Regions from separate parts of the Homo sapiens genome. Here region 2 is linked to region 1. Evidence: fine-mapped expression QTL. A gene starts in region 1. The other region holds a variant in brackets. All regions are shown on one strand. Distances are from middle to middle.

Region 1 (5,368 bases):
TTCTGTCTCCAGAATGTTCTTCCTGACCAATCTACCTGGCCTTCCAATCCCTGTCGCATCTCTCTGCCTTGAGATGTATGGCAATGCTATTTTGCTAGTCTGTTCTTCATTCTCTATTACGTGCAGAGTTGAGGACTGGGTTGCTTTCTTCCTTCAAATCTCTACCTAGGCCTTAGGACCAAGTTGTTCAGGGTACGAGAGAATAAGCTGACCCCACAGGGCTGTCAGGTGCCACAAAAGTCTTCTAACAGTCCTTCTCCTCCCTGGAGTGAGCTCACCCTTGTTCACCACACAGGCCTTTTACACAGCACAATTACAACATTGAGCTCGACACAGAGACAGGCACTGCCCTGCACTTAACCTCCTGCTTATTCAAATCCTCACTCTCGTTCCTATCAAATGAGAATGAACATTTGGGCTTTCCCAGAAAGGGGCAGAGGACTGTGTAAAGAGCTGAGTTCACCCAAGCTACGGCATGGACACACCCAACCTGGTCTTCAGCATCCCTTCCAGGGCTGAGATGTCGGAACACATCCGTGGGAGCCAGAAAATGTTAAGAAGAATACCATCACCATTTTAAATATTACTGCTTACCATATCAAATCAAGTTACAGTTATCTTCTCTGTTTTACACAGAAGGAAACTGAAGCACAGGGAGGTCAAGTAACTTGACCAAGGTCACACAGCTAGAAATGTGGCAGAGGCAGAATTTGCATTCAGGCCTATGTATCTCCAAAGCCCACTCTCTTAACTATGACATCACATTGTCTTGCATTTGACTGGTGCTTGGAGCTTTGCCAAAACACTTCATATACACCTTCTCATTTGCTCCCCACCCAGGGAGTGTTTATGTGTTTTGGCTAAGATTATATATCGAAGTTAGTGACAGGGCTGAGTCAGCTGCCTGCCTTCATGATACTCACTGCCTCCCTGCACTGAGAGGCCCTCAGCCCTAGGGTTAGCTGCCCCTCCTGGTCCTGAGGTCTGTTCGAGGCAATGGTTGCATGGACTAAGTTCATGCTCATATTTCCTGTCCCCACTTCTTCCAGCTGAACTTGGGCAAATATGTTTCTGACCTCACAGGGCACCTGACACACATCAGGGCCTCCCCTTCTCTGCCCTGAGTTCTTCCATGCTGCTACAGGTAGGAGTCAGCTGTTCCACCCACTGTAGGACTGTGGGCAGCATTACTGAGGTGAGGTCATCTTGAGCAGCCCAGTCTCCTGCACACTTCCCTCTTTCTTTTGAGGGTCTTGTCCTGTTCTCTGCCCTGGTGCCCCTGGAAGCAACTTTCTCTGATTACCTCTGGGTTCCTAAAGTGCATGGCACCATTAAGGAACTGGAGCTAGGGAAATGCCTGCAATGCTACTGGCTCCTGCTAGGCAATTGGAATCAAAGCATATTTCTTTCTTTCTTTCTTTCTTTTTTTTTTTTTTTTTTTTTTTGAGACAGAGTTTTGCTCTTATTGCCCAGGCTGGAATGCAATGGTGCGATCTCAGCTCACTGCAACCTCTGCTTCCCAGGTTCAAACAATTCTCCTGCCTCAGCCTCCCAAGTAGCTGGAATTACAGGCGCCTGCCACCATGCCCGGCTAACTTTTTGTATTTTTTGTGGAGATGGGGTTTTGCCATGTTGGCCAGGCTGGTCTCGAACTCCTGATCTCAGGTGATGCACCAGCCTCAGCCTCCCAAAGTGCTGGGATTACAGGCATGAGCCACCACATGTGGCCGGAACCAAAGCATATTTCAAACCCCTCACCTGACCTGGTTTTCATCATCACATGAATTTCCCTGTCTCATCCTTCTTAACCTTTCCTTTGATGGGAAGGGAGACAGCTCATCTGTCTGGAGCGGAGAATAGGGCCTGTGTGGTGCACACACATCTCTGGTAGAAGGCGCAAAAGTCCTCGAGGCTCTTTGGTGTGTCCAGAACTATGAACCTCACCCAGTGCCTGTAAATTGTGTGTGTGGGCCTGGGGGCGAGCTCAGAGCACAGAGTTAACATCCTTTCTGAGAGTGCTGCAATGGGTTGTCGGCTGCTAGAAGGGGTCTGCTGTAAGCTTTGTGGGCAAACTGACCACCCTCCACCCCCATACACAGAAGAGCCCCATCCTACCCTCTGCAGACGTCTGGGTCTGCGATGATTGGCCCTGGATGCAAGTAAAAGCTGTTTCTCCTTTTTGTCAGCCTGGGAATCTGAACAACTGAGGAAATAGGGAAGTCGGTGACAGTCACAGTCATGAACACCCAGCAGATTCCATTTCCCCACAGCAGGAGGCAGATCCCTTCCCACCCCCAAAAGCCCCCAGGCTCTGGAGGGAATTCAACCAAGCAGGGCTCAGACCGACCTCCACCAGCGAGGCTTCTCCTTGCTGTCCCCTTCTGCTCAGGCGCAACGTGGCAGGGCAGGAGGAAACCTCTCTGCAAGAGTTGCCGTACCAGAGCACATGGGGTGGCCCGATCTGGGGAGACGGGGCACAGAAGGAATGCAGGGCATGGGTGGGTGAGGGGAAGAGGGTGTGGAGCCCTGGCTCTGGCTTGTCCCCCTCTCACCCCTCCAAGTTCCAGAGGTCTGGGCTCCTCATTCATCTCGTAAGCGCCAAGGTGGAGGGGGGTCCTACCGAGGGAGGAGCTACAGGCCACCGCGACCAGCAGAGAGCGAAGGCAGGAGGGACCAGCCTGGCCCAGCCCCTTCATTTTACTGTCGGGGGTAGTGAGGAGGAAGAGGAAGAGGCGAAGGCTGGCGGAGGAGGAGGTGAGAGCGAGGACTCGGCAGAAGCGAGATCCGCCGAAGGGAAGTCCGAGCAGTCGGGGAGCTCAGGGGGGCCCTCCCGGGGAGAGGGTCGCGGGCTCCTTCTGCCGCTTACCTGTCGCGCCGAGGCAAAGCCGCAGCCGCGCCGCGGGGTGGCTCCCGGGTTTCCCCACCGGACGGCCGGGAGGGTGGGACCGGGGCGGGACCTCCCCCAGCTGCACTAACGCGCCCGCCCCGCCCCTCCCTGGCCAGGTGCAGCGGGTCCCGCCGTGTCCTCAGCCTGCTGCGGGCCCGGGAACTCCCGGCGGACCGGCAGAGGGGCGCCCCGGCTTCTCTGCGTCTCAGCCCGCCCCGGGGGTGCGGTCTTTGCGGCCAGGCTTTCAGCGCGGAAAAAGATTGGAGGGTCCTAGTCACCCCAAAGAGGACAGGCATTAGCAGAGCCGCGGGCGGCGGGTGCATGGAACCGGAATGTGCTGCGCGCCAGCCTGGAGCGCTCGGAGCCCGGAGGCCTGCCCCGGAGGGGGAAACGCGGCGGGGCGGCCATGGGCCCCGGGGTCCTGCCCCAGGTTTGCTTCTCATTTGTGCTCCATCCAACAAGAGCTCGTATTCCGTGTGCCATGAACTGTGTCAAGGGCTCCAAGTGCCAGGTATCAGGTGAATCCCAGCCCCAGCAAACTTTAAACCTACTATGATTATTCCGAATGTACCGGGGAGGCAGCTGCTCACACAGCAGAGGGTGTTTCTCAAAGTGGGATCCCCCACCAGCAGCGCCAGTCAGAATCACCTGAGAACTTATTAGAAATTTTGGCCGGGCGCGGTGGTTCATGCCTGTAATCCCAGTACTTTGGGAGGCCGAGGCGGGCGGATCACAAGGTTAGGAATTCGAGACCAGCCTGGCCAACATGGTGAAACCCCGTCTCTACTAAAAATACAAGAAATTAGCTGGGCGTAGTGGCGGGCGTCTGTAATCCCAGCTACTCGGGAGGCTGAGGCCGGAGAATCGCTTGAACTCGGGAGGGGGAGGTTGCAGTGAGCCGAGATCACGCCACTGCACTCCAGCCTGGCGACAGAGCGAGATTCCGTATCAAAAAAAAAAAAAAAGAAAAAAAGAAAAGAAAAGAAAAGAAATGGGCCCCACCGCAGACCTAAATATTCCGAAACTCGGGTTGGGCCCGGCGACTTGTGTTTTAAAAGCCCTCCGGGTGATTTTGTGCATGCTCGACCTTGAGAACCCTGAACAATTAGTGGCAGGGCTGGAATGAGAATCCTGGTAAACCCGCCTCCTAAGCCGGTGTTCGGAATTACCCCGCCAGGGCCCGTGCTGCTCAGTGGTCCTCTCCGGCGCTGCCTCGTGTGCTGCAATCTTTTGGGGCCTTAGCAACAGAGAAGGAGCGCGCATGACTCCAAATAGCCAATAATTTGAAAACTTTCTATGGTAGAAACTTCTACCACTAGTTCAGTTTCTCTTTTGTTTTGATATTTAAATAAATTTGTCTTTCTTTCTTTCTGTTTTCTTCCTCTTTCTGCTGCCCCGCCTCCCTCCTTTTTTCTTTTTTCTTTCTTTCTTACTCTCTCTGTCTCTCCTTTCTCTCTCTCTCTTTCCTTCTTTCTCTTTCTTTCCTTCTTTTTCTCTTTCTTTCTCTCTTTCTTTTCTTTTCTTGCTCTACTGCCCAGGCTGGAGTGCAGTGGAGCTATCACGGCTCACTGCAGCCTTGACCTCCGGGTCTCAAGCTGTTCTCCTGCTTCAGCCTCCACAGATGCATGCCACCATGCCCAGCTAACTTTTTTTTGTAGAGAGGGAGTTTCGCCATGTTGCCCAGGTTGGTTTCAAACTCCTGGGCTCAAGCCATCCTGTTGCCTCGGCCTCGCAAAGTGATGGGATTAGAGGCATGAGCCACCGAGTCCAGCCATGAATTTGTATTTCTAAGACCCTAAGACCTGGGAGCAGGAGCATGAGTGAGTAGATCCTAGCAAGAAGTTCTGACACGCACTGGGAAAGGCAGGGAAGCCAGCCGGGTGTTAACAGGTGAATGAAGAAAGTAATCTTTTTTTCTAACCTGAGACTCCAAGGTAGGTTTGATCTATTCAGAAGGTGAGATGTTCTTTGATGGAGTCAGGAGAGAAGGCCAGCAGAGTGTGGAGAAGAAGAGTTGCCCAGCTACACATGATCAGAGTGACGTGAAGGATGGACATTCTCCCAGGAGTAGAAAGGGGTTCATCTGCTCACTCTTGGCATGATGCCCGACTCCCCTAACTCTAAGCAGCCTTCCACCAACTCCCTTCCTTTCACATTCCAGGCCGTGGGCTTTAAGCTCCTAGAGAGACTTTCTACAGAGCTTCCTTGAGCATCCCTTAGCCCATCTGTAGACCCTCTGGACTCTGATTCCACCTCACTGCCCCAGCTGCTTCTATTCTTGTCATGTGCCTTACTTGACAGCTGTCTTTCTCAGAATGAGGGCACTTCCTGTGGAAGATTGTGGGATGCTGCCCCTCATGTCTCTCTTCTTGGGGCTGAACACTCCCTGTACAGGTCGGACCTACCGTCTTTGCTCTGTCCTTCCTCCACCTCTGCCCTTTGACCCTCAGGGGTTGTGTGATCCTGACGTGAGTCTTGCAC
Region 2 (5,368 bases), 29 kb before region 1:
GACCTGGAAATGTGAGTTTATCAGCTCCCTCAGGTGATAAAAACCAGAGCATCAGTCTGTTAATTAATAGCAAGGATAGTTGGCTGCTAGGTGGCTAGTGGTAGTCACTTGGGCCCTTAGCACACTGGCTGCCTAGGAAGGTGAACAGAGGTCAGAGGCTCATGGAGGAGCCTAGGATTGGGCCGCTGGGAGTTGGGGTGACTGGCAGGTGACCCTTTTCTATGCTGGTGGGCTGGCTGAAGACATCCCTCCCACTGGTTTCTTCTTTTGGGTTTTAGGTGGGAAAGTATGTTGTTATTCATTTTAGTGTGGCAGCAACAGAAATACATAATCGTTATAGTAACAGCAGGCATCAATTACGTGCTTAATATGCATCAGGCACCGTGAGAGGTGACTTCATAAATGAGCTCATCTACTTACTAATTACTTTTCCATGGCATGGAGATTTGTGTAGGTTTCATGGAGAGGCAATCCTTGCTTCCTGACCTAATCCTGATTTGCCTAATTCCTGGAATCTCTCAGAGTTCTGGGGTCCACCAGAGTTGGGGCCACCATCTTCTCTGACTGTTATGAAGGGCTTATTGTACATAGGTAGGGAAACTTCAAAGGTTACCAGGGCATGTGTCCTTTGAACTGGGAAGGGGAGCCTGATTTTTCCAGAAAAAGGATGATGACTGGTTACTCATCTGTTTTTTTTTTCTAGCCCTAGTTGTGAACATACTAACCTGTTTCTATCTTCACCCTAACCCTTTCCCACAGACATCGCAAAAGAGTCCCCAGTCACCAGATGTCCAGTCCTCATTACCCCTATTATTCCTTGCCTCTGAGAAGTTGTGCCCAGTAGTTTGTTTTGAGCTGTCCAGGCTGACTGCCCAAGCCCTACTGCCATGGACAGGGGGAGCAGAAAAGAGGAAGAGACACACTGGGAAATAGCCACCCTTTCTAGTTCAGTTCCAGATGGGATGTCCCTGATGCCACCTCTGCCTGAGAGATGTTTCTCAAGCTGTCGCCTGGGATGTTGTGGTTCCCCCCAAAGCCCTCTTCACTCTCACCCGGAAGGACATTTCCACGTTCTCCCCTCCCCAGATCTCCATCTGATTATCATAGGTACCGATGTGCTCAAAGTAGGACTTGGAGATGGAGAAGAGGCCACCAGCAAACGTCGGGGATCTGGAGAGACAGAGGGAGAAGTGTGTGCATCTTCTGGGAGAGGAGGAGCGGAGCCTGGCGGGGAAAGCTGTTTGTGGACTCCCCTCCTAACCCACCTCCCCCTCCTTTCCTCTTTCTCAGGACGTGCAGCCCCTCATCCACTAACTCACTCATCATTTAGCTTTTACTATGTCCTCTTCCCCTTCTAGGACCAGGTCAAGGAAATATGTAATTATCCTCTAAAAGGCACTCATTCATTCGTTCAACCTAGGATGCACGTAACACTGGCCACCAGGGCCCGTGCTACATGATGGACACACAGAACGGAGAAAGACAGATCCTATTCCCCCAGAGCTCAATCTAGTCACAGAGGTTAAAGCTACCATTAGTTACTTTTTGGCAGCAAAGTGCCTGGAGCCTAGGAGATACTCAACTTTCAGAAGCTGTGTGAAATTGTTTTTGAAAATAGGCAGGATTCAAACCATGAATAAATGAATGAATGAATATTGTCAGCTGGGCTGACTCCATTCTGTTTCAGGGCCCCTGCCCCTCAGGGACTATTAAGCCACAGTTTTAGTAGGCGCCTAGCCCTGGTGATTTACACTGCATGAGAAACTGTAGATTTGGGGAGAAGTTGCCAGTTGCTTTTAACAGAGAAAGCTGATAAAAGGTGCTCCTGGAAACAGTGGAAGGTCAGGTGAGATCAAGCTCAATTTGGGCTACAGGGAACATTTAGAAGGTTATAAAAAGATTCTGGCTTTCAGACACAGGCAGGGAGGTGTGGACTCAAGATAAGATAAATTGACAAAAACATCTAATTCCTAGAATTTAGATACCAGGTTGCTTCGAAGAGGGACTGGGCTAAGCGTTAGGGTATCGAAGCGGACCCGGGGAAGTATAAGCAAGATGGAATGCTGGGGTGGGGGCCGGTGAGACATGGCAGGAGCACAATCATCAGCTGCTGGTTTCTGTTTGGGCCAGCCTGGCATGGCTAGGGCTTTGCTGCCCTCAGTGGGCAGCTTCATGTGGTACAACCAAGCAGAAAGATACAGAACCCCTGTAACCCCAGAACCTATCTAGGTGCCTTACACACAGCTGGGGCCCAATCACTGTTCATTCGCATGATCCATCAAGGTGCCTACCCAGGAATGTGACCCTGGTGTTACCCTGTGGTTGCTCTTGTCTACCTGAAGTTGGCTCCTGCAGCCACTTTCTGGAAGGAATTTCAGTCGTGCTCAGGCTGGCTTCCTATCACTTTGGAAGAGGCTCTGGCCTCTCCCAGGGGTCTTAAACCGGCACAAGTAGCACCCTGAGAGGCTCAGAGAGTGCTGGAACTGCAGAGGAGCACTTGGAAGCCAACCTGCTTCCTCCCCCACAGGCCCTGAGTCTTGTCTTTGAGAAGTCTCCCAGACCGAGAAGTCACTGATGGATTAGCCATGAGGACAAACCCTGCATGGGAAGCTTCACTGTAAATTCACAACCACAGGCAACCTCTAGTAAACACCCTTTATGTCCTGGCCTACCCCTAGAATCCCCCAGGTCCTCTGCCTCTCCTCTTAGGCTCTGGTTGGCTTGAGATGGGAGGCCGGGAGGGGACTGTCAGCAGTCCTCCTGGGGTGGGGGCGCTACATGAAGAGCCTCGGCAAGCCATGCATGCTACCGGGGCA[T/C]GTGGGCCAAGGAGCACATTCATTCCTCAAACACTGGAGCTTTGTCTTCCAGTTGTATGGCCCTTGGACATTGAAGCCTGCGACGTCAGTGATGGGTGGGGGCCAGGTGCCCTCTTTCTGACTGTGCTGCTGTGTGCCTGGTCACTGGCATGGGGGTGGGGGTGGGGATCTGTTGCAGTGCACACCAAACAAAAGGCAGCTATGAAACAAACATTGGGTCAGTGGAAAGTTCCAATTTCTTTTCTCTCTTTTGCCTTTTCCTTTCCCTCTCTCCTTCTAATGGAGACAGAGCAGCTGGCTGTTCAGGATCTGTGGGATTTCTCCCTGTGGCATTCACCTGAGTTCCTTTCTACTGGGACTCTGAGCAGGTTTTTTTTTTTTTCTTTTTCTTTTTTAAGAGATGGGGTCTTGCTATGCTGCCCAGGCTGTTGTTAAACTCCTGAGCTCAAGCAATCCACCTAATCCACCTCAGCCTCTCATCTAGCTGGGATTACAGGTGTGGGCCACTGTGCCTGGCATGGACAGCATTTTTTAGGATTCTGGGCACGTGGAGAGGAAGAAGCACCAATCCTTTCCTCCTTTCAAACCTTCCCTCTTATCTCTGGCTACTGTATCTCCAACCTCTGCATCCCTCCGTCCTGGATGTATATTCAGTTGAGCCTTAAGTATACTGGCCAGTCTAAGATAACAATGACACAAATAATCCCAAACCACAGGCTACACTAAAAGTCACTCCTCAACTTGGTTTGTCTGAGACAACTGTTAAAATAAACTTACAGTCTCCAATAACACCAACAGGCTGCCTGGAGAGGGGAGGATGGGGTGAGTATAAGAGGGAAAGGTGAGCCCAGTGGGCATTAAACTGTGGGTTGACTTCCAATTGTCTACCCTGCAGCTCAGGGGCTGGCACACAAGAGCCTGTGGGCAAAATCTGGCTGCCTGGTTTTAGAAGCCTCTGGGGCAAAAAATTATTTTTACATTTTTTAATGTTTGTAAAAAAAATAAAAAATAAATAAGATGAAGAATATGCAGCAAACTATATGTGGCTGGCAAAGCCCAAAATATTTATCATCTGGCCCTTCACCAAAGAAGTTCAGGGCAACTGCTACAAACTTCACGCTGCAGAAAATGTGTCTGTTTTCTTTTAGTATATTCTCAGTCTTTTCAAAGACAGTCACCTGGGGGCACATACCACTCCCTCTTATTACAGTGACTATTCCACAATGGCCTCCATCACATCTCTTGCCCCATCTGCAAGCATGGGCCACTCCTTTTATGTGTAGGGAGGAATAAACTAAAGAATGTATAGCCCTTAGTTCAGTGCCTGGCACATGGTAAGTGGTGAATAAGAGCAAACTGTCATGGTGAATAAGAGCAGTGCCACGGTTAGGGCCAGACAGTCCGGGAAGTGTGTCCTTGCTCCACTGTTGCTAGCTGCATGATCTTAGGTCAGTGTTTATCACTATGAGCCTTAGTATTCTTAGTATTGTACCTGCTTCATAGGGAGTGAGGATTAATCACAATATGTCAAGTGCTTGATAGAGCACCTAACAAATGTTGATGTGAGATGGCACAGGTTCCTGGAACTGGGTAGGACTGGGGCCAGGTTGGGGGCTCACCAGGCTGCGGTCCTTACTTGATGGGGTAGGTTTCATCCTTGCGCCTCTGCTTCTCATGTGGAGGAAGTGTTTCCCAGCCGAAGGTCAGGCTCCAGTCAAAGTTGCCTCGGCTATGGACTCTGCCCCTCTGGACGGGCTTGGCGAACTCAAAAGTATTAAGGTCGATGGTGACGATGTCTGGGCTCACCACCACTGTCTTGTCCTCAGCGATTCGAGCCAGGAGGGGCTCCAGCCAGCCGTGGAAGCACTCACCTGCAGGCCCCAACCAGGAGGCAGCAGTCAGGGCCCTGCCCACAGCAGAGCCCAAGCTGCATCCTGGAGGGAATGCCCAGGAGGATAAGAGACAGTCCACCTACTCCTGGGTTACAGGCAGCAAGCCCCACAGCTACAGGGAGCACACAGAATTTCCTAAAACCCTTCTACCACCCCTCTACCCCCAAAGGCGGAGGCAGCTTTGGCAGGGAGAATGGAGGTCTCAGGGGAGTAACATGGTCAACTCAGATGACCCAAAAGCACAGGGAGGCCCTGGATGGTATCTTCCGGGGTTCCAGCCGATCCATTGGCCCAGCCCTCCGGGCCCACGTGTGGATTTCAGAAGAGGGTGTTCCCCCTCCCAGGGGCATCCGCATGTCAAGCTTCAGCCCTAATTGTAGAAGAATAATCTCTTTCATTTGTCTAGCTCCTTGAGATTTTCAGTGAGCTTCTGCACGTATTATTACTTCATTCGGCCCTCAGAGTAATATTTCTGTTCAGTAAGGTTAGTATCCTCATTCCTATTTTATAAATGAGGAAACTGAGGCTGTTAGTGGGGCAGGGTCAGAATGCAAACCAAGAATTCTGACTCCAAGACTAGAGCTTCCCCTAATATATATCACCACTCCTAGGGAAAATATTTCATCCTCCACAACAGTGGGGAAGTGTTTTGGTTTTGGG

What was found.
Region 2: its variant is fine-mapped to the expression of GALNT6 in whole blood (INTERVAL, PIP above 0.99).

Annotation. Positions count from the first base shown.
Region 1 is chr12:51,388,735-51,394,102 of GRCh38, forward strand. It overlaps GALNT6 (polypeptide N-acetylgalactosaminyltransferase 6), which reads right to left and starts at 2,672. Exons shown (of 12, transcript NM_007210.4): 1 at 2,553-2,672; 2 at 2,116-2,203. It also overlaps a transcript of SLC4A8 not described here. RefSeq lists enhancers at 798-887, 1,849-2,434, 2,435-3,019, 5,063-5,152 and a silencer at 2,705-3,244.
Region 2 is chr12:51,359,669-51,365,036 of GRCh38, forward strand. It overlaps GALNT6 (polypeptide N-acetylgalactosaminyltransferase 6), which reads right to left. Exons shown (of 12, transcript NM_007210.4): 6 at 4,453-4,687; 7 at 1,053-1,170. Among named protein-coding and RNA genes, the nearest start is that of CELA1, 16 kb to the left of the region's middle. The variant T/C (reference allele first, on the strand shown) is at 2,817.